Linked DNA regions of Homo sapiens: all the other regions are linked to region 2. The links come from fine-mapping of genetic effects on gene expression. A gene starts in region 2. Each other region holds a variant in brackets. All regions are shown on one strand. Distances are from middle to middle.

Region 1 (9,733 bases), 130 kb before region 2:
CTGCTCGAGAGGCTGAGGTAGGAGAATTGCTTGAGCCCAGGAATTTGAGGCCATAGTGACTGTGATCACACCACTGCCCTCCACCCTGGGCAACACAGTGAGACCCTGCCTCAAAAAACAAAAACAACATTAGCTGGGCATGGTGGTGTGTGCCTGTAGTCCTAGTTACTAGGGAGACTGAGGCAGAAGGATCACCTGAGCCCAGGAATTCAAGGCTGCAGTGAGCTATGGAGTGCCAAAGCACTCCAGCCTGGGTATCAGAGCAAGACCCTGTCTCTTGGGAAAAAAAAAAAAAAAAAGGAACCTTGGGTGAGGGTCTACTTCTGGGAGAACCCAATGCCTCCAGGCACTATACTGCAGCTGGGTATGGTCTCATCCTCCACCCTGAGCACCAAGGCAGGGTCTATTTCCTTACATAGACGTAAGGGAGAGATCTTTGGATCGATTTTCCTGAGCTGTGAAATGGGGCAGTCAGCCCTGGCAAACAGGTTGCTGAGAAGCAGACAGGCAGTGCTGCTACAGCTCTGGGCTCCCCTACCACAGATCCTGCACAGGAAACCCACGTGGTGGGCCCGGCCACCCTGCCCCACTGGACACAGAGACTGCTAGACCCACCTGCTTGAGCCGCTTGACCTCGTGCTCGAGCTCCACCTCGCGGGCCCTGGCATTGAACTCGCCTAGGCCAGAGGAGGCACTGCGGCCCCTGCCTGGCCGCTCGCAGTCCAGCTTGTACATCTGCAGGTGCTCCAGCTCCTTCCGCAAGTCCTCGATGAGCTGCGAGGGAGAGAAGCAGGTTGGCAGGAGCAGGGATGCTGGAAGGAGCCCTGGTGCCTGCTGGCCTGGGACCTACCTCCTGCGTCGCCTCCCGCTCCTTCTGGAACTCAAGGCGGTTCTGTCGCAGCTTGTCCATCATGCGCTTGTACAGGTCCATCTCATCTTTGAGCCGCAGGCTGGTGTCCTCCAGACGGTCAGACATGCGCTGCCGCTCCTGGAGCAGGGAGACCCGATCAGGGGAGGAGAGTTCCCAGAGAGGGGCTCACTATGTCCAGGGGTGTCCCTGGGGTCTGGTCAGCCATCTTCACGAGGCAGATGCACAGTGAAACCAGCTCCCTTAGACGGAGCCCTGAGTCTTGGCTTACAGAAACGGCCAGAGCCCCGATGATTCTAGAAATACAACTAAAAACCTCAGGCCTCTGAAGTCCTTCAACGATGCTAGATGCAACCTGAATTGAAGGTGTTAGCCCAAATAGAAGCTAACCTCTTTCTAAAACTAATTTTTCTCCATTGTATAAAGTAATAAATACATTCGCTGTAGAAAACTTGGAAAATCAGAAATACAGAAACACAAGTTGTTATTCACTTTTTTTGCATTTCTTAGGGGGTGCGGCATTTGTTTAGAATTTCAGAAGCAATAAACTAAAGGCTCCCGATGGCCAGCCCTGCCCCTCCAAGCCTGGATCTGCTGCTCACCTCATCCAGTTTCTCTGTTTGAGACTTGAGCCGAGTCACTGTTGTTCTAAGCTCTGTATTTTCTTCCTCCAACTGCTGCACCCTGGCGAAAGGAGAAAGACAAATCTCAGAAACCTGGAATGTAGACTATCTGATAAGCGCCTGCCAGTCTGCAGTGATTCTCTGCTTCCTCCCAGAGGAAAGATACCAGAAACCAACTGAGAGAAAGAATATGATTATTATGTCAAAGACAATTTAGCCGTGAGCTTCCTATCAGCCAAAGCAAAATAGTAAGGACTATTTGTAAGCAAAATAGTAAATTATCATTCTTATTTTCTTTCTTTTTTTTTTGAGACAGAGTCCTGCTCTGTTGCCCAGGCTGGAGTGAGGTGGCACAATCTCAGCTCTGCAACCTCTAACTCCTTCAGCAATTCTCGTGCCTCAGCCTCCTGAATAGCTGGGATTAGAGGCATGCACCACCACGCCTAGCTAATTTGTGTATTTTTAGTAGAGACGGGTTTTGCCATGTTGGCCAGGCTGGTCTCAAAAACTCCTGGCCTCATGTGATCCGCCCACCTTGGCCTCCCAAAGTGTTGGGATTACAAGAGTGAGCCACCACACGTGGCCTTTATTTTTCCAATAAGTGGAAACATTCATTAGAGAGTAGGAACGCAGATTCTTCTTGTATGCATCCTTCAGATCCTCAGACAACACGGGGATGTCTTTCTGCTAGATGGAGAAACAGTCTTCTTGTGGCTTCTGTGACTGGGCCCTCCTGTTAGACTCTGTAACTTGAAGGCAATGATCATATTGGCTTTTCATTCTCCGCCAACAGCATCTCATCCAGGGCTCTTCTCTGAGCGCTCACTGCACCTCCCTCTGATGACCACAGGCATGGGCTCTGACAGTAATAATCCTCTGTGTTAGCGTTCACACAGGAATTCCACAAAGGGAATCCTAAAGGGATTCCACAAGAAGACAGAGCCTGGGTGTTCAGGTCAGTTTTTTGTTTGTTTGTCTGTTTTGAGACGGAGTCTCAGTGGCGTGACCTCAGCTCACTGCAACCTCTGCCTCCCGGGTTCAAGCGATTCTCCTGCCTCAGCCTCCCGAGCAGCTGGGACTACAGGCGCGCACCACCACGCCTGGCTAATTTTTGTATTTTTAGTAGAGATGGGGTTTCACCATGTTGGCCAGGATGGTCTCCATCTCCTGACCTCGTGATCCACCTGCCTCGGCCTCCGAAAGTGCTGGGATTATAGGCGTGAGCCACTGTGCCCGGCCTCAGGTCAGTTTTAAATGGTCTGAGAATAGGTGCAGGTGAGTTGGGCCGTCGGTGGCAGCAGAACTGAACAGGGTCACTTCTGGCAGTGACTCCTGCAGAGCATCCCGTTCTCAACCCACCACCTCCCCATCATGTCCTCTTTCCTGGAAGGATGGCTTCTGGGCCTCCACTGCCCTCTGGGCTCCAGAGAGGAATTCAGCCCCACCACCAGCAGGTGGCCCCAAGCGGGTGGAAGTGGTAGGGAACCAAGCATACGGCAGGACTCTGGGAACACCACTCGGATATTTTACACGAATGGCGCCCCCGGAGCTGTGTGACGGGCACACGTTAGGAGACAGTTCCCGAGGGCTGGCTTTCTGCACTTTGTCCTGTGGCCCAGGTTCACACTGTCTTTTACCACCTCCCGTGTCCCAGCCACCTCTCTTGGGCCAGCTGCCGAGGCGGGCTGAGCGAGAGCAGTCACCCTTAACTAGGCACCAGCCTCCAGAAACAGATGCAAAACAGCAGCTTCTAGAATAGAGTCAAAATGTAAAATGAACCCCTGGTGGGTAACTTAGCAAAGCAGGTCTCAGACACCGGGGAGTTGGGAAGTCTCCTCACCAAACTGCACAGGGGCAGGGACACGGGGGCAGGGAGGTACCTGCCTGAGAGCCCAACTCCCAGTCATTTGCTCAGCAGCCCACCAGCCGCCAGGTGGGGCTCGGCAACTCTGGGAAGCCTCAGCATGGAGACTGGGGCCTCAGGGGGCCTGAGGAGTGCCAGGGCAGCTGTCCTCTCTGCCAGAAGCCCAGGCGGCCTCCTCGGCCTCGGTCAAGGGCCGCAAAGGGGCTTCATCACAGAGGCATCATCATAGCCCTCACCCGTGGGCAGGGTCTGGACTTACATCGGCTCACCCACCCACACAGCCGCTCTGTGGGGCACACAGGGAGGTGACCCAGTACGTCCAAGGCCATGGAGCTAATGGGAGACCAACTCAGATCCCTGGCCCGGGGCTGCTCCTTGTCCCGCCTGCGTCACGTTCCAATGACGAAGCCACAGGTACACGCAAGGCACAGGAGCCGGGTTTTCCATTTACCTTGGCCCTGGGGCTCTGGCTCAGTCCACCAGGGGTCAGGGGAGAACCTGACAGCAGGGGGCGCTCCAGGCCTGGATGTGAGACCCAGCCCAGGCCCTTTTCTCTGACAGACATTTGTGTGGTTTGCATTACCAAATGTGAGCCACGCTCCTGGGAACATTCCTTAGCGAACTTCCTGAAGAGCATGCCTCTGTGTTTCTCGTGGTATTAAAGTGGAACTGTTACTACTGGAAAGTCTCAAGAGGCTGCCCCTCAGCCTCACATTCCCATCTATAAAATGGGGATAGCGCCTATCCCACAGGGCTGCCCCAGGACAGGGGGTCCCTCTGAGGGAGGGGGCTCGGTGGAGGGGCCCACCTGGCATTGAGCAGCTCCACCTCGGTAGCCTTCTCCCTCTCCAGCTTGCCGTAGGCCTCGCGGTGGCGCCGCGCCTCCTCCTCCAGAGCCTGCTCGGCCGTGGTCTCCTGATCCTTCACCATCTCCTCCAGCTCATGCACCCTGAGGACAGCGCAATGGGCAAGCTCTTGGGGCCTGCACCATTTCACCCCAACCCAGGCTGTGGCACGGGGGACCCTGGGCCCCGAGACCCTGAGTCACTGGCATGTCCACTGAGGGCGTGTGGGCCAGTAGCTTTCAGAGAGATGAACGGGGACACCGCACATATAGAGGGGGTGTCGGTCACACATGCCATGGAGGGGCAGGCCTGGCAGTCAGAAGGTGGGGCGCTCAGGGCAGCACAGGGAGGGACCGCCCCCACCAGTCCCTGCAGCCACACCTGGCCGGAACCACCTCAGGCCTCACCTCTTCTTTTTGTGCTGTTCCTTCCCGGCCACCCCTCTGATTAATAATTCAGCTTATTGGGCACCTTGACTCCCAAAATAGGCACATCCTGGCTGGTGGCCTGAAGTCTGCCCCAGACCTGGGACAGGGCCAGGGGCACGTAGATGTGAGCACCCCAGTGACAGCCTGGTTGGTATTTCGGTCTGGGATACGTCTCACTGGCAACAGCCCCTCCACCAGGCTGACCTTCTGGGGTGTACAAAAGGGCCCATCTTTGGGCCCTGTGACAAGTTGGAGGACCGGACCCCTGGCCAGGGTATGTCCCCCAAGGGTCATGCCATCTGGTGAGGACAACTAAACCCTGAATCCACCACTGCAGACAGCATCAGGAACGGCAGGCTCAGGGGACCTCCATCAGCAGCAGTGCTGGACCCTTCCCACCGCCCAGCTCACACTGGCCTGTCCCCTGCAGAGCTTGTCCCTAGGAAGGGACGTCAGGCTCCTGTCACTGTATGAGTGAGACACAGTGGATCCCCACTCCCATCTTGGACCAGCCCTGTGGCTTCAGACCTCAGGGGGTAGAATCCATTGGGCCTAGAGCCAAGGTCAAGCTCCAACCTGTCTCCCTGTCCCTAAGGTCCTGTCCTGGGCACCACATGTGGGCAGGGCCATGTGACAAGAGGCTGATGCGTCACAGACCCTCAGAGCTGCAAAGGCATGAGGCTGCCTCCTCCTGGAGGTCTTAGCAAGATGGACCCCCCTTTGTTCCCCAGCGTCACGGCCGAGCCCCCAGCGCCGCTG[C/A]CTGCTTGACCTGTGCACCAGCTGTGTGTTCTCTTGCTTCAGCTTGCTCTTCAGGTCCCCATTGGTCAGGCTGTCATTCTCCAGCTCTGTCACCTTCTTTTCCAGGAAGCTTACCTGCAGCAGGGGGCCGGGGTGGGGTGGAGAAGACCTCTGAGGCCACAGAACCGAGAACCTCGACGCCATGAGGTTCATGAGCAGGACCTCCAAACCACTGTGTATCTGAGAACGGTCATGTGTGGGGTGGGGGAGTGGGGAACACGTGACCAGGGCCACCTGCCCCCAATTCCTAGGCAGGTACAGGGTCTCCCAAGTCCCCAGACAGTAGCCTGAGTGCACCCCATCTCCCCTGGGAGCAGGCATGCATTCAGTCCCTTCTCCAGCCACCCAAGGCCCACCTTCTCTGTGATGTCATTGTCGCAAGAGTCAATGCTGTCCCGGAACAGGTCTTCGGTGCTGCCATTGCTGCTGCTGAAGTTGCTGCTGTGCATGAGCTGCCTGCAGGGGTGGGAGGAGGGTGTCTGGCTGCAGGGGCCTTCCAGAGACAGGGGCCTACTCACACTACTGGCTAGGCGAGCATCCAGTACCCCAGGGGGTCTGCCCCTTTAAGGAGGCTGCCCTCACTCAGCCTGAGAGGAAGAATGTTGCCAAACTCAGCGGATCACCCCGCCCAGAGGATGGCAAATGGGCTGTACAGACCCCCGGGGTCCCCTGGCAGACACAGCCAATGACGCACAGCTTCTCCTGCGGCCTCAGAACCCTCTTCACGCCAGCATGCTGGCCTGCAGCTACCCAGTGACCTCAGCTGGCACGTGAGCCCCCTCCTCTTCCAGTGGGGAAGCCCCCAAGGAGGTAGCCCAGCTCCATGGCCCTGGAAGAGGGTCTGGGCCTCCTGAGGCTTGAGCCTCTCCACCAAGCTGGCTCCTGCTACGTCTCTGGGAACTCTGGGGGATGGCAAAGGCAGAGAATTCTCCAGGCCTTGCAGAGCAGTGAGCTGGGGTGGGACTGGGCCTGCTGAGCTAACCCGTGCCTGAGGCAAAATCCAGCTGCCACCCCCAGTGACATCCCCTTCCAGCTCCCTGATAGGCAGCAGCCAGGGTCTCTGCCAAGAGGCCAACCCACCTAGCTCCTGGGCCCTTGCTGCCAGCTCCCAGAGCCCTGAGTGTGGACCTGGGGCCACACTGAACTGCCGCAGGACTTAATCGGAGCAAAGTGACCAGCCCCAATGGCGCACACTCATGCCCAGATCCCCGCCTGCAGGAAACCCGGGGTCTCTTTATTGAGTATGGCTGCCAGCTCCAAGAGGCAGGAAGGGCACTGAACGCTGTGGGGTGCTCTGTCTCTCTCAGGGCATCCCTGGCATGCCTGCCTGAAGTCAAGGTGACCTAGGATTTGAAGAAGGGACAAGGGGTGGGGAGAGAGCAGGGAGGAGCTGGCCCCTCTTTTTCAGAAGTGACGCTGCCCTGGCTGCACTGCCCTGGGATGGCCTCGTTCCCCTCTGCTCACTCAGCCACATGCGGGCACCAGCTGAGTCCGGGCTGCTGGCAGGGAGCCCCGGCCAGTGGGCAGCATGGGGACAGCACTCAATTTGCCCTCCCTCGAGGCGGGCCTTACCGTCCAAAGGCCGTGCTGGAGATCTTTCGGTTGGGGCTAGAGAGAGAAAGGAAACAGTCATTGAACAGAGGGGTTCTAGTCCACTCCCTTACTCTGTCCTAGCTGTAAGACACCACAGTGCAGGACAAGGCTCTTCCCTCCCACTGAAAGGAATTCACTAGTCAGCTTGGTCCTGAGAAGAAACAGCCTGATTTCCTGTGGCAGAAAAAGCCCCTGGATCAACCCTCCTCTGAGAGCTCTCACCTGCCCAGACAGCAGGGGTCGCCTCGCCATGCCCGTAGCTTCTCCCTCCAGGCCCTGCCCTGGCCCCCCGGCCTCTCACCCCCCAGCTGGGCCTGGGCCTCACCTGTTGGCCTTCAGGTTTTTCAGTCGGGCTTCCAAGTCATTGAGCAGGTTGATTTTCTTGCAGCATTGAGAGCAGTAAACATCTAGCAATTCGCTGTTGTACACGTGCCGCATTTTCCTAGGCGTCTGCCCCGCACTGATTCATGAGGGAAAGGAATCACCACCTTAACTGCTGTCCAGTCTGGTGCCCTACACCACCCTGCTGAGCTGACTTTACTTGAGTCCCCAGTACCTTTGAACCTTGTTACGGGGGAGGGGCAGGGAGTGGAAATATAGCAACAGATCATCCCTTCTCCAACACGCTCAAAGAGAAGCCAGTGAGGCATACCCATTTAACAGCTAAGGCAAACTGCGAGCTCATTTCAGAGAAAGTGGTGACTCAGGTGGGTGAGAAGGGATCACAGGGGTCACTTGGAAGGATGCTTCAACACTGAGGTTCTAGGATACAAGATGACACAGAGCCCCGTGGCCCCCAGTGTGCAGCCTCCTAGGTCAGTTAATTCAGGAGGAACTCCTGACCCCTAATCAGGGTGCGAAGGTAGCAACCCCAAGCCCCAGGAGCAGAACTCAAGTAGCTGAGGACAAAGGAAAAGGGCCAGCTCAGGACTCGCACCCCCCCACCCCCTAGGATGTGCTTAAATTGCTTCTGCAACTTTTGACCCCAAATGACATCCCAGACCAAGGGGCCACCTGGAAGACACCGAAGACCCCAGGTCCGAGTAGACGTTGGTCCTGGTCTCATCATCGGGGCAAGGGCTGCTGGGGGCACAGTCCACATCGTCACCCTCCCCATAGTCTTCAAACTGCTCCTCATTGCTGATGAGCGAGGTGGTGGAGTGTGTAGAAAGGTCTGAGGTCGTCATGGATGGAGTGTGGACCAGGGACCTGAGGGTCCGAGAGCACCCAAGTCAGAGGAGGACTCATGGGTCCCCAGCCACAGCCCGTGGTGGGGAAACTGACAGGCATTTCCCTTTAATTGGCACTACCGATTAAGTTTGTAGCTCTTGACCTGGTAAGTACATTTCAGGGACCCTATCTAAAGGGAAACATCTCACCACAGAAACCATTTCTACAGTTCAAACCAATTCTACCCATGCTACTCCACAGTAGCAAAACACTGCTTACAACCTAATTGTCTAGCTACAGCTAGATCAAATTATAATTATTAAATTATAATGTTAGTAAATTATTAAATTGTGGAATATCAAATAGTTGTTGAAAGGTTTGTTAAAACATTTGTAGTAGTGGCAGGCGCGGTGGCTCACGCCTGTAACCCCAGCACTTTGGGAGGCCGAGGCGGGCGGATCAGAGGTCAGGAGATCGAGACCATCCTGGCTAACATGGTGAAACCCCAACTCTACTAGAAATACAAAAAATTAGCCGGGCGTGGTGGCGAGCACCTGTAGTCGCAGCTACTCAGGAGGCTGAGGGAGGAGAATGGCGTGAACCCGGGAGGTGGAGCTTGCAGTGAGCCGAGATTGTGCCACTGCACTCCAGCCTGGGCGACAGAGGGAGACTCCGTCTCAAAAAAAACAAAAACAAAAAAACAAACAAAAAAACATTCGGAGTAGCTGCTCTGCTTCTGTAGTAGCCATTGTTTTATTATTTCCTTAATAAACTTGCTTTCACTTTAAGGAGAGGAAAAAAAAACATTCGGAGTAATACAGAAAATGAATATAAATGGATCTAAAATTTTAGATACTGTAAGACTGAGTATGGTCATCCCTTGGCATCCAAGAGAGATTTGTTCCAGGACCCCCTGTGGACACCAAAATCTGAGGATGCTCAAGTCCCAGATATGAAATGGCATAGTATTCACATACAACCTATGCATATCCTCCTGTATACTCGATCGTCTCTAGATTACTTATCATACCTAATGCAATGTAAATGCTATGTAAATAGTTGTTATACTGTGTTATTTTTTAAGTTTGTCTTTTTTTTTTTTTTTTTTTTGGAGACAGAGTCTTGCTTTGTCGCCTGGCTGGAGTGCATTGGTGCAACCTCTGCCTTCCAGGTTCTAGTGATTCACCTGCCACAGCCTCCTGAGTAGCTGCGAGTAGCCTCCTGCCACCATGCACAGCTAATTTTGTATTTTTAGTAGAGATGGGGTTTTTGCCATGTTGGCCAGGCTGGTCTCAAACTCCTGGCCTCAGGTGATCTGCCCGCCTCAGCCTCCCAAACTGCTGGGATTACAAGGCTGCTCCCAGAGAGCAGCACGAGCAGCACGGCCCCTCTTCTCCATCCACAGACCCAAAGGGCCCCACCAAGAACATCAGGACTCTGAGAATCACTTGAGTTTGAGAAACCCTGCATTGAGATATACTAGGTTGAACCACATGAAATTACTTTTTTGAAGATGGAAATGATTAAAAGTTGTCAATTTCATG
Region 2 (9,733 bases):
CATGGGAGAGGCCTACTTGGTGATTCTTATTTCTATTTTTCTAGCAAGAAGGACGGTCTTCAAACTGGAAAGGGAAGAGGACCATGTCACAGGGAAGTGTGGTCCAGGACATCTCTGGCTGCTTTCAATGTCTACCATTCTGACTGCCGAGGGGACGTAAGAGGGGCAGGAACACCACAGCTGGTTAAGGAGGGTGAGTTGAGCACACAGAGGCCGGTGCCAGATCTTGACCTCAATTCCTAGCAAATCTCCAGCCTAGAACAGCCTCTCAAAAATGCTTGCAAGTGTTTAGAAAATAATAATAATGACAAGGAGAGCACCAGCAATTCTGATATTATGCCTACTCTGTGCAGATACTGGACTAAGCCCTTTGTATGTATTAACTCACTCAAACCCCACAATAACCCTATAGAATGGGGACTCTGATCAGCCCCATTTGATGGATGAGTAAATAGAGGCCTAAAGAGGTTAGGGAGACAATGCAATATATCAGAAGGCAACACAGGGTCAGGATGTTGAGCCATCATGTTACATACTTATCAGAGTCCTGCTCCCTGGCATTGTAGACTTTCAGGATCAGGGCAGTGGTGTGCCCCCATCCCTCAAAAATCTGCATTTCTTTCTTTTCTTTTCTTTTCTTTTCTTTTTTTTTTTTTTGTGGCAGGGTCTCACTCTGTCACCCAGGCTAGAGTGCAGCGATGTAATCTCAGCTCACTGCAACCTCCGCCTCCCAGGTTGAAGCGATTCTCCTGCCTCAGTCTCCCAACTAGCTGGGATTACAGGTGCACGCCACTACACCGGGCTAATTTTTGTATTTTTTGTAGAGATGGGGGGTCTCACCATGTTACCCAGGCTGGTGTGGAACTCCTGAGCTCCAGTGATCCTCCCACCTCAGCCTCCCAAAGTGTTAGGATTACCGGCATGAGCCACCACGCCCGGCCCATTGTCTCCTCTTTTCTGCTGTGATACCTAGGTCAACAAAGTAGGGAACTATCAGGGACTAACCTAATCCATAAATAACATTATTAAGTAACATTCATACTTGATCCTGACTTCCTTAGTTTTTACCTAATGTCCTCTTCTTGATTCTAGGGTCCCATCCAGGACACCACACTGCATTTAGTCAGCTGCCTCCTTAGTCTCCACTTGGCTCTGACAGTGTCTCAAAATTTCCTTGTTTTGGATGACCTTGACAATTTTGAGAGGTCCTAATCAGGCATTTTGTAGAATGCCTCTCGGATGGGATTTGTCTGGCATTTTTCTCAGGACTAGACTGGGATTACTGGTTTGGGAGGAAGACCACAGAGGAAAAGTTCTATTCTCACCACATCACACCAAGGGTGTATGCCATCATCACAATCTGTCACTATCGATGTTGTCCTTGATCACCTTCTGAGACAGTGTTTGTTGGGTTTCTCCACTATACAGTTGCTGTTCCCCCCACTTTCCAAACTCTACCCTTTATAAGGAAGCCACTACGCACATCTCATGCTTACACGGTGGGACGTTATGCTTCACTTCCTCAATGGGGCAATTATCAACATACGTTATTCAGATTTCTTCTATACGAGAGATTTTCCTATTTATTTATTATCATCTGTTCAATAATTTATACATATATATATTTCATTATGGCCTCATGGATATTTATTTCATACTTTATGACCTAGTATATTTTGGTTTTTGCAAAGCATTTGATCCTGGTATCCCTGGTATTCTGGGGGTAGGTGGTAAACTGTGGACAATCAGCTCTAAGTTCACTGAACTACATATCTAATGAATGATCATTATCCATCCCAGAGCACAAGTGGCTGGGAAATCAATGTCACTGCCTGATTTTAAAACAAATAAAATAGAAACAGTCAGAGTACACTGCATTTCGTAAGGGAGCCCCCCCCCCCCGCCCCCCGCCACCCCACCGCTGGAAAACAACACTCCGATTTTTTAATGCATCAGGGGATAAGATGGGTAGTGAGTAGAGATGCAAAATATATTTCCACGGGTCTCGGTCAATACAGCATAAGCCGAAAACCACCCCTACAAGTGCCTCGGGGCCCTGTCCATGGTCCTGCCCTGCAATGTTTAACCAGCCTTGTGGATTCAGACACACCAAGCACTGCTTCTCCAGCCCGCAGGCAGCAGCACAGCTGAGAGTGATAGAGGTAGGATGCTAGATTCTCTTTCTTGACAGATACAATGTGATGAAATGAACAAGACGAAATTAAATGGGAATAAGGGCCAAGAAACAGGCTTAGATTCCAGAAATTACTGACAGACAACAGGCCCGAATGCTTCCACAAGCCAGGATTGTTAAAAGAAAAAAGAAAAGAAAAGAAAAGAAAAAGGAATTGTGTACAGTAAGAGAGACTAAAAGGTGACAACAACCACATACACTGCACAGTCCTGGAGAGGAAACAGCAAAAATGGACATTTTGGGGTCAAATAGGGAAATCTGAAAAAGGTCTGCATATTAAACCAGATGAAAATTTATTGAAGCAGAAAAGTCATGATCATTTACCGGCAAAAAAAATCAGGTTACAAAACAGTATGCACAGTATGATCTCATTTTCTGGAGAAAATTGACATATAAGCATGGAAACAGCTCTGGAAAGGTCTGACAGAAGTGTCATTGAGGCGCTGCCTGAGAGATAGGACACAATACTTTTTATTTTGCTTGTCCCTATTTCCAGTTTTCTGCAATGCATATCCACCGCTTCTGTAGTAATCTCAGAGTATGCTTTTAAAAGAAAAAAATCACTGACCCTCCCCGAAGGGTGGAGAATCCCTGGCTTGGCAGAGGTTTCTAAAACAGATCCCTGGAGGTTTCGGTGGCCAGAAACTTAATATAAGCAGAGTGCAGTGCCCCATTCAGAGGCAGCCCCACCCTAAGCTGTGTGCATATGTGTGAGGTCTTGGGGCTAATATAGTCCTGGTGGGGGCGGCGGGGGGCGGTCTGCTTGTCCAGCCCTTTCATGTTATTGCTAGGAAAACTGAATCACAGAATTAGTCGATGGCAGCTCCAAGGCCAGAAGCCAGAGGTCTGGCTACTGGGTCACATGGAAATGGCCTAGGGCTTCAGGAACTGGGGTATTTGGCCTGGAGAAGGGAAAATGGGAGTATGGAGCTGGGAAGGAGAGAAGGGGCAGGAGTGCTATTTTCAAATATTTAAAGGCTCCCCCAAAGAAGAGAGACCTATGTGAGTCCCCGTGCAGAACGGTGATGACTAAGTGACAAGCAGGTCTGTCTCTAGAGTGTATGAGGGAGAAGGTTCTAATGGCAGGAACTGTCCAGCTGGGGGAGAAGTGGGTGAGGCTTGCTGGGCACGTGGCTGAGGCCGGTGGCCCCTGCCAGAGGTTGTTGGGAGGCCCTTCCCACTACTGAGGCTCTGAGTTCGGGGACTCCAGGTTTCAGCCAGAGCTGGTAGCTTCTTTACCCGACCTGCAGTCTGTGTTCTGAGAGGAAGGAGCGCGACTATCCCCATGCCAGGAGTCTGCTCAGCCTGCCCCAGATGGGAGCCACTGGAAAAACGGAAGGGCTTGGCTGGCCTTTGGGGAAGAAGGGTCATGGTGGCAGCAGGCAGTGTCCCTCAGCAAAGCCCCGCAGAGGGCAGTCTGGGCTCTCACAGGCACTGCAGTGGTCTTTCCTGTGGTGGGTACCTGAGTTCTCAAGCCCTGAAGCTGCCTCACTCTCTTCTGCCCACAGCTCTCAGCGACTCACAAGTCCCGGCCCATGCCCAGGTGCGGGTGGAGAGATGATTCTCAATCGCCTCCCACTCTCTGGTGACGCAGAGGCACGGGCCCAACCTGGCCATCACCCAGCTTCTCCCATGTTCTGAAATGCCTGGTCCGACCTGTTCTGGGAACACAATGCCAGCCAGTGCCCATTTGAGGCCCATGGCCCCAGGCCCCCCATGCAGGGCCTGAGGCCTTAGATGGCCTTGGAAACCCACTTCTCAGGGCTTTTGGCTCCAGGGGAAACCCCTGACCATTTCAGCCAGGTGGGTGTCTTGTCCTCCCCTTGAGACACAGTCCCCAGTCCCCATGCCGGTGGCACCAGAGGACACTGGTGTAGTGTGCGTTTAGTGATATGACTCCGTCCACCCTACTGGCGGCACCGACCCTCCGCTTCCAGCCCTGTTAACAATCTACGTAAGTCCTGCTTTCCCCAAATAGATGCGGCCCCGCCACATGAAAGCCCTCTGCTCAGCCACCACTCCCCGAGCCTGGCTTTGCCTGGCCTGCTGCAACCAACACAGCCAGCTGCCAGCCTGGCTGCCCAGCAGAGCCTGAATGAGAGGTCACCCGACACTGGCCCGGGAGTACACGGTGGCCCCAGCAGACACCTCCTTCCGTGTCTGGGCAGGGTGTGTGCAGCCGAGGAGCCAAGGCTGCAGAGCACCCCTACCGGTCCCTTTCACCCCCTGGCCCGGCCCAGCAGGACGTACACAGACCCTTGCATCTTGGTCTCCGCAGCGCCGGGTGGGGTGGGGAGCCTAGGGCCGGATTCTGGCAGCTCTCTCCCCCAGACAAGGGTGGATGTGCAGACCGCTCAGAAGGACCTGCATGGCCGAGGAAGGAAGGTGGGCGCAGAAGCCACCCTAGGCGTGACGCGTGACGCTCGGGGCACGGGCGCCGGGGGGCGGAAAGCGAGGGCCCGGCTGGGCCAGGGATACCCGGGGGGGGCCGAGGTCCTGGGCTCCGGCGGAGGGAGGGGATTGGGAGGGAGGCCACCGCCTCGGGCCACGCGGGTGACCCGGCGGGGGAGCTGGGGGAGGGGCGGCGGGGCTGGGCTGGGGTCCCCGGGCCGGGACTGGGGTCGGGCCAGCTTACCTCCTCGCCCTGGCCGAAGCGCAGTCCGAGCGCCGCGACGCGCTCCACGCGCAGGAAGCCGTCGGGGTCGCGGCCGCACACCTCGAACACCTCGCGCAGGCGGCGCACGGAGCGCAGCAGAGCCGCGGGGGCGCCCGACCAGCCCGCGCCGCCCGCCATCCGGGCCGGCCCGCAGCTCAGCCCGGACCCCTCGCCCGCCGCGCCCGCCGCCTGCCCGCCGCCGCCATCGCCGCGCGCCCTCCGGGGCCGCCCGTCTGGGTCTGCGCCGCGCAGCCTCCGCCCGGTGGCGGCCGCGGCCGATCCGTGTCAGCAGCGGCGCCGCAGCCCCAGCCGCTCCGGAGGGGAAGGGAGGGGAGGGGAGGGAAGGAGAAGAGTGGGGAGGGGAAGGAGGAGGGGCAATAGGGGGCGGGGAGGGGAGGGGCGGGGGCCGCGGCGAAAATGGGAGGGAGAGGGGGAGGCGGCGGGGGCGGCGGCGGCGGGGACGCTGCAGACAAAAGGAGCCCGCGTCCTCCCGAGTGGGGCGGCCCACGCGGGGCCGGCAGGCGCAGCGAGCTGCCAACGGCCGCGTCCTCCGCGACCTCAGTTTCCCTCCGCGTCCCCAGTTTCCCTCCGCGTCCCCGAGCCCACCCCTTCCTCTGGACACCCGGAGCCACCCAAAGGCCCTGCCCTGCCGGAGGATTCCGCGGGGTCGCGCCCCTTTCCGCTATCCGTGCCCGCTGCCGCGCCTGGCGTCTCCCGAGCGCTCAGGATGTCCTGGGGGCCTCCTGCATTGGCGCGTTCCGTGACTGCATTCATCCCGGAGGAAGCTGAGGCCCAGAGAGGTCGGACTCACTCTAGGCCACACAGCTGGCAAGAGGCAGGGCCGGGATTCGCTGCCATCTCTGGAGGGCTCTGGACTCCGTTCTTCACCTCCGCCCTGCGGTCTCCCGGCGCTCTCCTGCAAGACAGCACTTGTGGGGCCATCGGGCGGGGGAGGGCACAGAGAGGAGGAGCAGGCAACTGAACCCCAGCCTGGACCCGGGACCCTGCGACGGGGAGATGAGGAGAAAACCAGGATGAGGCCGGAGGGAGGAAAAGCGAGGCGCTTCCAGAGGCCTGCCTGTTCAGGGCCCAAGGCTGCTCCACGCCTGGAAGAGGCTTCCTCCCTTTCGCCGGGTTCCCACCATCACACCTCCCTGGCAGCCCGCATGCCCCAAGCTCAGAGAATCCAGGACAGAATCTCTGTCCCGCTGGCCGCAGGCTCTAGGTCAGGACCCTGGCCTCCTCCCATTAGTGCTCAGCGGAGCCTCCACCCCAGCTTGTGCTAACTTCCCAGCCCAGCCTCGGGGCCCTGCAGGACCCGGCCGGGCTCTTCTCTCCACCTTCTTGCTCGGCACATCAGGTCTTTGTGGCAACGACTGGCCCCAACCCAAAAAAAGGCCTTGGCTGAGTCTACTCCCACCTATGCTGTCATGCTCAGCACAGAGGTTTCCTCCTCCGGGAAGGCTTCTCTGATGGCACGCCATCTTATCTTCTATTCTGAGTTCTAAGCCCTTCTTCCAGGTGCCCAGTTAATTCTTAATTCTCTAGTGGGATGCCCATTTCCCCTACCATGCTGGGAAGCCCTCCAGGGCAAGATATGTCTTAATTACCTTCAAGTCCCTGATCTCCAGGCAAGAGTGGGCCCAGAGGAAGCCCCACCCAGAGGGGATGGGCCCGCCCATTATGTGAGGAGCCGGGAGCAACGTAGTGGCGCAGACAGGGAGTACGGGGTGAACTGCATGGCCTCCCCTAGCTGGGCCTCGGTTTGTACCTCTGTGGTCTTCCTGCTCAACCCTGAATATATCCTGCGCAGGGACTGCCATTTGCCTTCTGACAGTGGGCGGGGACCTCTTCTTTCCAGCCCCGGCTCCTGGGATGAACCTGGCTTTTAGCTACTCTCCTTTGACCCTTCAGTTCGTCTGAGAGCCACGAAAGGCAACACCTCTTGGGAAGAGAGACCTGTGGTTCTGAGGATTGAGGAGTCCGAAATGTGAGAAAGCGGGAAAGGGGAGGCCGTGGGAGTGGAGTAGGGGTATTCGGCTGAGTAGGAGCGTCTCTGCTAGCTGGATGCCGCTCAGCAGGATACTAGCATATTTTAGCCGGTTTCCTCGCCTGTACCGTGAGGATAATAGTACCTTCCTTTTAGGGCAACTGAAGATGAGAGCGAATCTAAGCAATGCTGCTTTCCCCCGACCTACCCTGCAAAATGGAGGTGGAAGTGGAGAATAAGGACAAGCAGCTGGCTGGGAGAGACTGGCTGCTGGAGATCCAGCCAGCCCCCTGGCAAGGAGGTAGGGAGTGGAAGCTGGGGGCTGCTGCCTGCCCCTGGGACCCCGATATTAGTTCGTCCAAGGTCAGCTCGTGCCATTTTCTCTCACCCAAGGGGCTCAGCACAGAAAGGAGATGGCCAGGAGCTGGGGCTGCCCCCTGGTGGGGGCTGCAGAAATGGCTCTCCGCGCTCAGCCTGGCATTGAATGCCCCCTAACTGGGGACAGGGGAGCTGGAAGACTCACCCACTTCAGCTGGCAGAGGCGGGGACCTCAGACCTGAGCATGAACAAATCCCAAGTGAACCAAGACAGAATCCCGCAACCAGATTAGCCAGTTCTTGTCAAAGACAGGATCATCACAAATTCAAAAATCCCCCAGGAGAGCTTTCCCTGACCGGACTCTCCTTGCCCAGGTCTCTGCAGTTTTGTCTCTGGTGGGCGATGGTTTGAAGGACACCTGCCTCCCCCACCAGTGGCACTGGGTCTCTTGCTCACCGCTGTGCTGCTGGGGCCAGCAAAGCACGTCACAGGCATTCTTTCTGGGGTTGTCACGTTTTTGTTGAGCACCTACGTTGTGTTGGGTATGCTAGGGAGACAGTGAAAGGGGTGCAGCCACTTGCTGAACTTGATGGGGGCAGTCATGGCCCAGTGTGATCTACACTGAGGTGCCAGGCTCTAGGAGCCCAAGAGGGCCTGCAGAAATGGCTGAGTGCCTACCCAAAGGTCCCTCAGAGATGGTGCAATTTATGGAGTCCTTGGGTCCTTGGAAGTGGACCTGGGACCACTAGGGCTCCCAAAACCCTGATCCAAGAGCTCAGAGTGCAGCCCCGAGCAGAAGCAGCAAGAGAATACCCATGTCAGGGCCGGCTGCAGGGTGAAGGGGGTTGCTCCAGGAAAGCAAGAGGTCCCCATGGATAGGGCGGGAAGGCGCGGAGCCTCCTTTCTGTCCTCCGCTTCCTCCAGGTGACCTCTGATTCTCCAGGGGATTTCCAACAGCTGCAGCAGCCTGGGCAGGCTGGAAATATACTGGGAAATATACATGGAAGGGACAGTTGGGACTCCGGCCCCTTCTCTAGGAAGAAACAAGTTTGATCAGGTCCCTCCCCTGCTGAAAACTCAATGGCCACCATTGCCTGAGCTGGCATTGTGCAGTGTCTTCATACTCTCCTGCCTCTCCTTAACCCTAGTCTGGGAGCATCCAGGCTCCCTCCTGCCTCCCTTTGCTTAGTGGGTGGGAGGTCTCAATCCTACCCCCACCCAATTCCACTTTCTCTAATTCCTGTCCTTGTGTTGTGGAAGTGGCACTTCCTACCGGAAGCCTTTCATGACCACCCCACTCCTTGCCCACCTTGACCACCTCTCCCATGTGCTCCTGCAGAGAAGTGAAAAGTACAGACTGCAGCCCACTTACAGGTATGGATAAGGCTGTGGTGAGAGTCAGTAAGTTAATACATACATTGTAAGTGTCAGAACAGTGCTGCTGGTTAGTGACAGCTATTGTCCTTGTGACTATCCTTACCATCTTACTCCTATTGTCTATCACCGGATTATCTGGGAAACTGTATGAAAGGTCACAGGAGTGACCATGAGGTCCCTGGGAGCAGGGACTGTGTCTATTTCTCTCCTGATTTCTGTAGCTCCTAAATAATGCCCATACACACATAGTTAGGGTCTGTGTAGGAATAAATTAAGGAATGGACAAATATGGCATGGTAGGCTGAAAAATGCCCCCTTAAATGATATCTATATTCCAATCCCTGTACATCAGTGGTCCCCAACCTTTTTTGGCACCAGGGACTGGTTTCATACAAGTCGGGGGAAGAGGGTCTTGGGATGAAACTGTTCCAACTTAGATCATCAGGCTTCAGATTCTCATAAGGGGTGCGCAACCTAGATCCCCCTCCTGCGCCATTCACAATAGGGTTCCCGCTTCTATGAGAATCTAATGCCACTGATCTGACGGAAGGTGGAGCTCAGGCGGTAATGCCCACTCACCCGGCGCTCACCTCCTGCTGTGGTTCCTAACAGGCCATGAACTGGTAATGGTCTGCAGTCTGGGCGTTGGGACCCCTGCTGTAAATGTTACCTCATTAGAAAAAGGGTCTTTGCAGATGTAATTAAGGATCTGGAGGCTGGGCGTGGTGGCTCACGCCTGTAATCCTAGCACTTTGGGAGGCTGAGGCAGGCAGATTGCTTCAGTCCAGTAATTCGAGACCAGCCTAGGCAATGTGATGAAATCCTGTCTCTACTAAAAAATACAAAAATTAGTTGGGCATCGTGGCATGTATCTGTAGTCTCAACTACTCAGGAGGCTGAGGCAGGAGGATGGCTTGAGCCAAGGAGGTGGAGGTTGCCGTGAGCCCAGATCATGCCACTACAGTCCAGCCTGGGTGACAAGAGTGAGACCCTGCCTCCAAAAAAAAAAAAAACAAAAAAAAAACTAACAACAAAAAAAACAACAGGATCTGGAGACAGGGGGGTTATTCTGGGTTAGCTAGGTGGACCCTTAATGCAATCACACATATCTATAGGATGGATCAGAGGCAGATTTGACACATAAAGAGAGGGTAATGTGACCACAGAGGCAGAGATTGGAGTGGTGCAGCCATAAGCC
Region 3 (9,733 bases), 97 kb before region 2:
GTGAGGCCAGGGAAAGTGAAATCAGAAGGGTGAGGTCGCCTGTCCAAAGTTCCACAACTAGCGAGCAACAGAGCCAGGATCTAGACCTAGAAGTTTTCTGGCGCCCATTTTTTCTCCTTAAGGAAACAGGCATTGGGTGACAAAGCGTGGGATGCAGGTGTCTGTGTCTTAGGTAGGCATTTCTTCCAGGAAAACGAGGGAGCAGGGGGCAGGGACTTGCTGCTATTCTCGCTCCTATTCTAGGAGGGAGACTTGAGTCTGGTGCAGAGGGTAGACACCCCTCAGCTCCCTTACCCCAAGTTCACCGGAGCAGCAGCAGCTATTTGAAATGTGGGTTCCCTTTCCATGGTATCAGGCTTGCACAGCGCAGGGGGGTGGGGGGTGACCACAGATGACTAAAGAGAGAGAGCCCGCCCACTCTCCCACACTCCAGTTCTGTTTAGGCCTTCCTCTTTCTGGTACCTCAAAAGAGAAAGGCTCCCATGAGCAGAGCCACAGATATTAATAACTTCTACAGAGCTTTGTTTTCATCTGAATTAATGTTTACATTGTTGGGAAAGAACCCACTTGTCTGGGAAGATGAAGCAGGTTAGATCAATTAAAAATGTGACCAACAGTTGGAAAACTTCCCATTTCTTAAGGTCAGTCAAGAAGTGGGTTTGGAAGTGCTGGCATGACTAGCACTGGCCTGCTGGGCGGTTCTGGGCTGGAGGTCACTCAGACCCCACAGCTCTGGGCCATCACAGCCACCCCTCTGACCTTCATACGACCCTTGTAGGCTGCACGTCCTTCTGGTTGCCTATGTTCTCCTCCCCGTCTCATCTCCTTTCCAGGTCATGCGAAAAAGTGAAGAAGTAACCACCAAGGTTGTCTGGGTGCTCAGGGGGGTTCTGAGAATCTGAGCTCTTGTCATCAATGCTCTTGAGGGGGGCTCAGCTCCTGAAGCACCAAGACGCTCGGGACCCCTCTGAGCAAGGCCAGCTGGGCGCCCCCAGCATCCACTCAGCCTTGAATGGGGTCCACAGAAGCTGGCCAATGACAAATTCCATTCAATTAACAGTATTATGATGAAGCTGCAAACACTTGGGGAAGGACTGCCATGTGTAGTCAGACACTTGGCATGAGATAATGAGAAAATAGCTCCAAATGAAAACAGATAAGGGTGCAGTCCAGGCTTCTGGGGGCACCTTCTCTGCAGCCTGCCACCCAGTGTGGGCTCCAGATCATGGTGCTTGGAACCGTGGTCAGGCCCAAAGCTACAAATCCTCCCAGGATAACATGTGCTGGCCAGGAGAGGTAGCCAAGACACCCTGCTGAAGCCCCACCCACCAAAAACTCAGAGGGCACCCCAACCTTCAGCCACCCCATAGCAGGGGGGTGGATGAACAGGATGCCCCATCCGAATGCCGCATGACACGCAAACACACGTGTGTGTACACACATATATATGATCTGGGGCCCTAACCTGGACAGACTAAACCCAAAGTTGCTGCTCAAATGTGGGAGTGACTCCCTGGGGTCCTTAGGACCCCATAGAACTGTGCTGCTGCCTGCCACAGGCAGAGGGAGTGAAGAGGGAGGCCAGGGAACCCTTGAGGATCAGACAAGAGATGAGGAGACAGCCTGGGTGACACAGGCCAGAGTACGGAAAACACGGGCAGGCTGCTGGCTGCTTTATGAGCCTTGAGAGCAGGACCTGTCCCTACCCGACAGGAGCTGACCCGTGGGAACAGCAGGCAGGCCCAGGCAGCTGTCAGAGACACAGCTGTATGCACATCGCCGGCGTGCCCTTTGCTGGTTTGATTCGTGTGGTGGCAACAGCATAGTCTGGCAGGAAATGTTTCCACGTTCACATGGACAGGCTCGTCTGACCCAACTCAAGCTGAGGGCAGGGAAGTCTGTGGCAGCAGTGGCCACAGAAGCCTGTCCTCCAGAAATGCCTCAATGCCCAAATCCCCTCGACGCGGAGGCTCTGAGAAGGGCAGAGCAATGGAAGGCAGCTCGTGCCTGTGGATTTCTAGTCTCACTTGTACTGTCAGTCCCCTCTCCTCCTCCTCCTGGGATTCTGGGTTGTCACAGCATTGGGTGGTCCCCCATCTCTCTGAGCTTGTCCCCTGTCCCCCCAGCCCTGGCTTGCTCTCCAATCACATCCTGTCTTGTAGTTCTGTGGACAGACATAGCATGCCAGCCACCGTCCCACCTCAGGGCCCTTGCAGTTCCTCTTTTCTCTGCCTGAACCTCTTTCGTTTGGATGTCACCTTCTCAGTGAGGACTTCCCTGTCTGACTCTGAAACCCAGCACTCCCTCCCCTTCCCTGCTCTTCCTCCTGCCAACTCCCATACTCCGTGTTTTACTGCTCTACCTGCCTCACTACCATCCTGCGAGCTCCTTGAAGGCAGGGGTTCTCGTCTGTTTTGTTCACTGCTGTATCTCCAGTGCCCAGCACAGAATCTGGCACAAAGTAGGCAACGAAGAATCTGGTGAATGAATTCAGTACCACTTGCCCTGTACTGGGAAATGTGCTGGGGGCTGAGCAAACAGAAATGGGGAAGCCTCCGTGTCCTGAAACGCCTCCTGGTGAGGGAGACTGTGGTACCATTCAGGGGCAAAGATCGTACGACATCCAGTAAGGCACCAGGTGGGACTGCCAAATAGGCAGGCCTGTCTTGTGGTGCCTAATTGGTATGGATGGGACCACCCAATAATCCAGCCATGAGACCTGAGATGAAGTAACTGGGCATTGATCTTCGAGGCCAGTGTTTGAAGCCATAGGTGCCCAGTTCCTGAGTCAAGAGCCAGCAGAGCTGACCCAGAGGAAGACAGAGTCCAGCCCCAGGGGTTCTGTATGCCTGGCAAGGCCAGGGCACTGTGCCCCACTGCTAACACCAGACAGCAGGCACGAACAGATAAAGATGCTTCAGCTGGGTGTGGTGGCTCATGCCTGTAGTCCCAGCGCTTTGGGAAGGTGAGGCAGGCAGAACCCTTGAGCCCAGGAGTTTAAGACCAGCCTGGACAACATGGCAAAACCCCATCTCTACAAAAACAAAAACAAAAATTAGCCAGATGCAGGGTGGCACACACCTGTAGTCCCAGCTGAGACTGAGGTGGGAAGATTGCTTGAGCCTGGGAGGGTGGGAGGCTGCAGTGAGCCCTGATCACACCACTTGACTCCAGCTTGGGCCATAGAGCAAGACCCTGTCTCAACTCAATTAAAAAAAAAAAAGATGCTTCCTTTTCAAACACAATGAGCCCTGTGCCAGGAAACAGCATGCCCTTTCTCATTCGGAGATGCCTGCCTTCTGGGAACTGCTCACCTGCTATTTCATTGGGAGCCTCTCCTACCCCCTTCACCCCCTCCTTACCCATACCTAAAACATATAAAGTGAAATTGCGAAGTCTCCTCAGAACAGAATCAGTTGTGAAAAACCTCAGCATAACGGGCTGCCCAGATCGGGGACTGCCAGATACCTACGGGTACAGATGAAGGAGGGAGTTGCAAGGGCCCCAGGTGAACGGCCAAAGAGAAAACCTTGGGTCTGAAGCAGCCTGCCTACCAGGAGGGGAAGGGGCTAGGAAGGCACTAGCATGCTTTAGAAGTGGCACAGATGGTCGGGAGGGAGAGTGAGGGCCGGTGGAGTATCTCAAGCTGCAGCCCAGAGCCTTCCGAGTGCAGGCTGCCCCTGGAACCCCAAAGGAGGTGGCTTAGAACCCAATGGGCCCTCTAATTTCTTCTGCTTTTCCTCCCCCACTTGCCTAAAAGTCCCTTCCGAGGGCAGGCTCCAGGCAGTCTCTCCTACAGACCTCCCTTAGGGCAAAGGTCATGCCTTCCAGCTGGCTCACCTGGCCTGGCTAGTCCCGCCCCTCGCCTCCGGCCCAGTCTTATCTCTTCTACTGGCCTTAGTCATTTACTCCACCCCCTTCGCCTAAGTCCAGGCCCCCCCTTCAAATTCCGAAGCTGTTCTCCACTACGCATTTGCCCAAGGGGTGCTGCCTTCTGCAGTGAAGAACCCTAGCGGCTTCCCTCACCCCGCCAGGCGACACTCTCCCCTGTGAAGTGACAGGGACCTCAAAGACAACTGCAGGCAACTTGCAATCAACTTAGAAGAGCTGGGCAGGCCCAGAGCAGACCCAGTATTCAGACTGCCTGAGCTTGCAAACACCTTGAAGGCAGGGAAGTGTCCCGTGTGTAATGTTCCCTGGGAACATAATCAACAGTCCCCGAAAGCCAGAAAGCAGGGTAAGGTTTGGGCCAGTGCCAGGGTGCCAGCACCTGGGGGAGACCCCAGTCAAAGGCAGCGACTCAGGCACTCCACCAACGCAAGGCTAGTTGGTGGGGGGAGGATATGGGGGGGAGTGAGAGCGCTCCCATTGCAGAGGTCTAGTGGCACACAATTAGTACTGCCTCCGACCCCTTTGAGTCTCCTTTTTCCCATCCCAGCAACCACTGTAACCACCTTTCAGCTGGGCCAGGACCTGGGGATGTTCTAAGGAATGTGCCTGCCCCATTGCTTTTCAGCGTCCCAGAAGCCCAAGCCAATGCCACCTGCCTCCTGCTCTGGCAGGGCAGGGCAGAAGTTTGGTGGATCACCAGGAACCAGCCCAGGGTGCTGCCACTCCAAGACCTGGTGGAGGCTAAGTGCAGAGACAGGACCCAGACCTCTCACATTGCTTTGAGAAAATCGGTCAGTCAAGGAAAACTGGCATGGCCCTCGGGGCGAGTGAGGTGTCATTTCCAGCCCTCTGTGGGAGAGCAGGGTGAGGGAAAAGGGAAAGAGAAGGCACTGGAGAGTTTGCATGGGCGAGGAGTAGGGTGCGGGGCTGTGTCGGAACCCAGTTCCCCACAGCACAGACACGCTCTCCAGAGACTGCGCCGCCAGGACCTTGGAGACACTTGTCGCCCGCACAGAGAAGCGGCTGTGCCAACAGCTCCCACCACCGGGCCAGACCGGCCGCCTCAAGGGCCACAACACACCTCCCACCACTGCAGCTTCTCGGCTGGGGAGAGGCAGGGCCCCGGCCCCACACCACGACCTGGGCTGGCCCCGAGGACTCCCCACCTCCACCATCCCAGAGGGACGGGGGAAGCCAGGAAACAGGCTCTGTGCAGCCGCCAAGAGCTACAGAAAAACTTCGCGGCGCTCAGCCCCCTCGGGGACCCGGCCCAAGGGTACGGCGCTGGGTACCACGCCGATCCCGCAAGGGCAGGAGGGCAGGGGCGCTGCGGCCGGAGGTGGGGCCCGCCGTCGGGTCCCCAGGGAGGCGCCCCAGCAGACGAGCCCCCTTCCTAGTCCACTAAAAGCACTTCCTGGAACTGCGCTGGGGAAGGAGCCGCCACCCGCGCACCTGGCAGCGGCTTCTACTCGCGGCCGAACGAGATGGCTCAGGTAAC[A/C]CGACCTCCCAGGCCAAGTCCGCTCTCCGCCAACTTCCCGGGGCCGCGGGCCGGGCCGAGCCAGGTGCGCGCCGCCGGAGCCCTGCGAGCGCCAGCCCCGGGGCCGCCGCTTACCTGGCTCCCGAGAGCTGGCGGGGTGCGCATCCGCGGGCCGCTCCCCGGCAGAGGCGCGGAAGCCAGCGGGCGCGGGTCGGCGGCGCGCGGGGACGCGGCGGGCAGCCCCGAAGCGCAGGAACAATCGCGGCCGCGCCGCTGCCGCTCGCACTTCTGGGCACCAGTGGAAGGCGCGGCCCCGCCCCCGCCCGTTGCCGGGAGACCCGCGTGGGCCGAAGGGCTCTTTGTATCAAGCTGCGGTGACATCACGAGGCGCCTGGGCCCCGGGACTCGGGGGCGGGGCCTCGCGCCGGGGCGGGGCGGGGGCGGGGGCGGAGGACAGGGACGCGGCCCCGGAACCCGAGCCGCGGGGCGGGGCCCAGGTAACCCCGCCCCCAAGGTAGGGGCAGGTGGCTCCAGGGCGCCGACCAATGGCCGCGCGGCCGGCCCCGCCTCCGGAGGTGGAGCTCGCCTGGGCGCGCCCAGCTCAGGGCAGCCCTGGCTGGGACTCCAGGAGTCGGCGTGTGAGCTCGCGCCCCTGCCAGGTAGGCGCTGTAGTCTCTTGCCCGTTCTGCGCCACCCTCACGGTTTTTTGTCACCGCACTGTGAGATTCCGGCCGGCGCTCCCCGGCTCACACTGCGCACCCCGCCCCACACGGTCCGCCGCCGCCTCCACCCCCTAATGAGTCCGGGGGCGCCTAGGCTGACTTTCATCCAGAGTCCTACCCACAACTTTTCCAGCCTTTTCATGTGAAGTCGGAACCATCTCCATAACCAGCCCAGGAACACAAAGAACCAAGCGGCAACGAGAACTAAAGAACCAAAAAAAAAAAGGAGAGGACCCTTCCTGTTGAATGCTAGTAAATACTATTTATGTCAAACATGTGTCCTCAGGCCGGGCACAGTGGCTCAGACAAAGTGGCCGAGGCGGAGGATCTTTGAGGCCAGGAGTTTGAGACCAGCCTGGGCAACATAGCGACATCTCGTCTCTACAAAAAATTAAATGTTTAAAAATGTACTCCCCATCCCCCCATCACTCTTAACCATGCCCTGGACTTTAAAAAGACAAAAATGAGATGAATGTAAAGCGGCAAATATTGCAAATGTGGTTGCCCTTTGACCTGCTGTTGCACTATATAACTTGAGTGAGGGGAGAGATTTATCTTCCTGTCTGGCTCAAAGCCACCTTTGCCTTCCCTGAGTCTTCACTGGCCAACAAAGTGGCAACGGCACTTTGGTACGGGCAGGACCAGTGGGGCATCTGGGTGCTTTGGTCCTGCACCACCCTACACACCCACCCACACCCACACATGCACACACACACATGCACACACGCACCAGCTTTGCCCACTTCTCTGCCTCTTGGCTGTCAACTTCCTTCTCAGTCTCTCCTGCCAGTAAATTCGCAGCGGCCCCTATGTTTACCAGGGCTTGTCTCTGAGGCAAAGCAGCCGCTGGAGCTCCCAGAACTGCTGGGGACTTTCCAAATGGGACAGCATTAGGTACAGGAGGGCCTCCTGGCCAGAGCCACCTAAGAGAGGAGCTAGAGCTGTGGCCCCAAGAGAAACTCCACTGCCCCAGCCCTCTCCTCGGAAAGTATGCCTTGCTGTTCAGAGATATATGTGCAGAGGCCAGACTGTTTCTCTTGTTTGGGTCCGCTCCCACAGTCTCTAACACACAGGAGCACTGTGGTGTATCATATAGAACACACATGTTGGTTGGATGTGGCGGCTCATGCCTGTAATCCCAGTGCCTATGAGAGGCCAAAGCAGGAGGGTTACTTGTGGCTAGGTATTTGAGGCCAGCTTGGACAACACAGCAAGGTATTTGAGGCCAGATTGGACAACACAGCAAGACCCCATCCCTACCAAAAAATTAGAAATAAAAACATTAGGCAGGTGTGGTGGCACGTACCTGTAGTCCCAGCTACTTGGGAGGCTGAAGAGGATCACTTGAGCCCAGGAGTTTGAGGCTGCAGTGAGCCATGATGGCACCACTGCACTCCAGCCTGGTTGACAGCAAGACCCTGTCTCTATTTGTTTATTTATTTATTTATTTTGAGATTTATATTTCATTCTGTTGCCCAGGCTGGAGTGCAGTGGCGTGAGCTTGGCTCACTGCAACCTCCGCCTCCTGGGTTCAAGCGATTCTTCTGCCTCAGCCTCCCAAGTAGCTGAGACTACTGGTGTGTGCCACCACGCCCAGCTAATTTTTGTATTTTTAGTAGAGACGGGGTTTCACCATATTGGCCAGGCTGGTCTTGAACTCCTAACCTCATGATCTGCCCGCCTTGGCCTCCCAAAGTGCTAGGATTACAGGCGTGAGCCACTGCGCCTGGCTGACCCTGTCTCTATTTAAAAAAAAAATAAGAGTACCTATGTGGTGTATCATACCACTGGCTTTGAAATCAAACAGACTTGGGTTTGAATTGAGTCTTATTTCCCAGATGTCTTGGGACAAGTTCTGTTACTTCTCTAAGACTCAATGTCTTCATCTGTAAGATGGGAATGGTACCTCACAGGATGTTGTACACCCTAGCACAGTGACTACACTTAATTTTAGGCACTCCTCAAAGGTGTGGTATGCGATTGAGCCCATGCACCCTGGGCCCACTCTATCTGCCTTCCCATCTCCACCCTGAGACCTTAAGCTCAGCAGTGTCCCAAAAGGTTTTAGGATGTGGCTGAGTCCAGGGGTTCTATCTTGGTTTCCCTTCTTCCCTTCCAAGTCCGATGTTGCCCCTAAGGATTATTAGGCTCAAAGCAGGTCACATGACAGGATCGTCCAGAACCAAGAAAGAAAAGCAGAAACCAAGGGTGATCATCCCTTCTCTGGTCGTGACTCTCTCCCAGAGAAGGTCAATGGAGAAAGTCAGGCCTGTCAAGCCCCCTCCCTGTCCCCACCATGGGCAGCCTGAGCGACATTTCTCAAGAGCTCTATGGAACGGGTGGTATCAGTAGGTCCTTCTTTATTTTTCTCAAAGGTAGTGGAGTGGGGAATGTCTGCAGGTACTTGTCCTTAAAAGCAGAGTGACAGAGAAAGGCCACAGATGCATTGAACACTCCTGGGTTTGAAGCCTGCCCGGTTCCACTTATCAAGGGAAGTCAATGTTTTGGAGCCTCAGTCTCTACCTCTAGAAAATGGAAATAAGACATTTCCTCTTGCAGTTGTGAAGTTTCAATGAAATGATAAAGTGTCTAGTGCAATGCCTAAGATGCTGCAGGTGCTCAATAAATGGCAGTTCCTAGTCACTACCAGCAGCATGAGTGAGCTGCAGTCTGACGCACTGGTTCTGTGCATGGGTGCCGGGGCCAAGGGCCATATCTTGGCTTTACCACCTTGTTGCTAAATGAACGTAGGCAAGTTTAAGTCCCAGTGTCTCAATTTCCTCATCTTTAAATTGGAGATAATAATAGTATGTATTTTAGAACTATTGTGAGGATCAAAATAATCAGGACCAGTAAAATACATAGAACAGAGCCTGGCACAGAGCAGGTAACCAATAAACAGTAGCTATTACTAATGATCATTATGGCAAGAGGCTGAGGGGAACAGAGGTGAGGATTAGAGGCAGCCTGAGGGAAAATTTAGGACCCTGACTTTTGAGGGAAGGGCTAACACTTTCCAGCAGGGTTCAGAGAAGCAATGATAGTCCAGTGGGGGGTGGGGTGGGGATGGTGACTGTATCTGATGGGTGAGATTAGACACAGGATGAATATGGGATCTGAGGGCTCTAACACAGGCTAGGATTCAGTGTCCTTGGTTCAAACGGGGGCTAAGAGTGAGTTAATAGGAAATATAATCCTGCCTTCTGAGCATAGCACCACCTATGAGGATGTGGGGAAGGAAGGTCTTGAGTTAGGTACCCTGGTCTCTTAGCATTACCTGTGAGGTTCCTTTTTTTTTTTAAAGAGACAATGTCAGGCCCGGCGCAGTGGCTCACTCCTGTAATCCCAGCACTTTGGGAGGCCGAGGCGGGCAGATCACCTGAGGTCAGGAATTCGAGACCAGCCTGGCCAACGTGACGAAACCCTGTCTCTGCTAAAAATACAAAAATTAGCTGGGTGTAGTGGCGAGCGCTTGTAATCCCAGACACTCTGGAGGCTGAGGCAGGAGAATCACTTGAACCTGAGAGGTGGAGGTTGCAGTGAGCCAAGATTGTGCCACTGCACTCCAGCCTAGGTGACAGAGGAAGACTGTCTCAAAAAAAAAAAAAAAAAAAGATAAGATCTTGCTCTGTTGCCTAGGCTG

What was found. PIP is the estimated chance that this variant, and not a neighbour inherited with it, causes the effect.
Region 1: its variant is fine-mapped to the expression of RAB11FIP4 in whole blood (TOPMed, PIP 0.93).
Region 3: its variant is fine-mapped to the expression of RAB11FIP4 in whole blood (TOPMed, PIP above 0.99).

The regions. Positions count from the first base shown.
Region 1 is chr17:31,519,661-31,529,393 of GRCh38, reverse strand. It overlaps RAB11FIP4 (RAB11 family interacting protein 4), which reads right to left. Exons shown (of 15, transcript NM_032932.6): 5 at 8,034-8,228; 6 at 7,345-7,479; 7 at 6,999-7,034; 8 at 5,783-5,882; 9 at 5,398-5,501; 10 at 4,164-4,304; 11 at 1,471-1,552; 12 at 851-988; 13 at 616-774. Among named protein-coding and RNA genes, the nearest start is that of MIR4724, 10 kb to the left of the region's middle. RefSeq lists enhancers at 3,154-3,768, 3,709-4,003, 4,384-4,998, 5,657-6,291. The variant C/A (reference allele first, on the strand shown) is at 5,388.
Region 2 is chr17:31,387,108-31,396,840 of GRCh38, reverse strand. RAB11FIP4 (RAB11 family interacting protein 4) reads right to left here and starts at 5,166. Exons shown (of 15, transcript NM_032932.6): 1 at 4,830-5,166. The coding sequence starts at 4,988. RefSeq lists an enhancer at 5,362-5,951.
Region 3 is chr17:31,484,043-31,493,775 of GRCh38, reverse strand. All of the region lies in intron 3 of RAB11FIP4 (RAB11 family interacting protein 4), which reads right to left. Among named protein-coding and RNA genes, the nearest start is that of MIR4724, 46 kb to the left of the region's middle. RefSeq lists an enhancer at 4,767-4,836 and silencers at 5,257-5,306, 5,397-6,136. The variant A/C (reference allele first, on the strand shown) is at 5,390.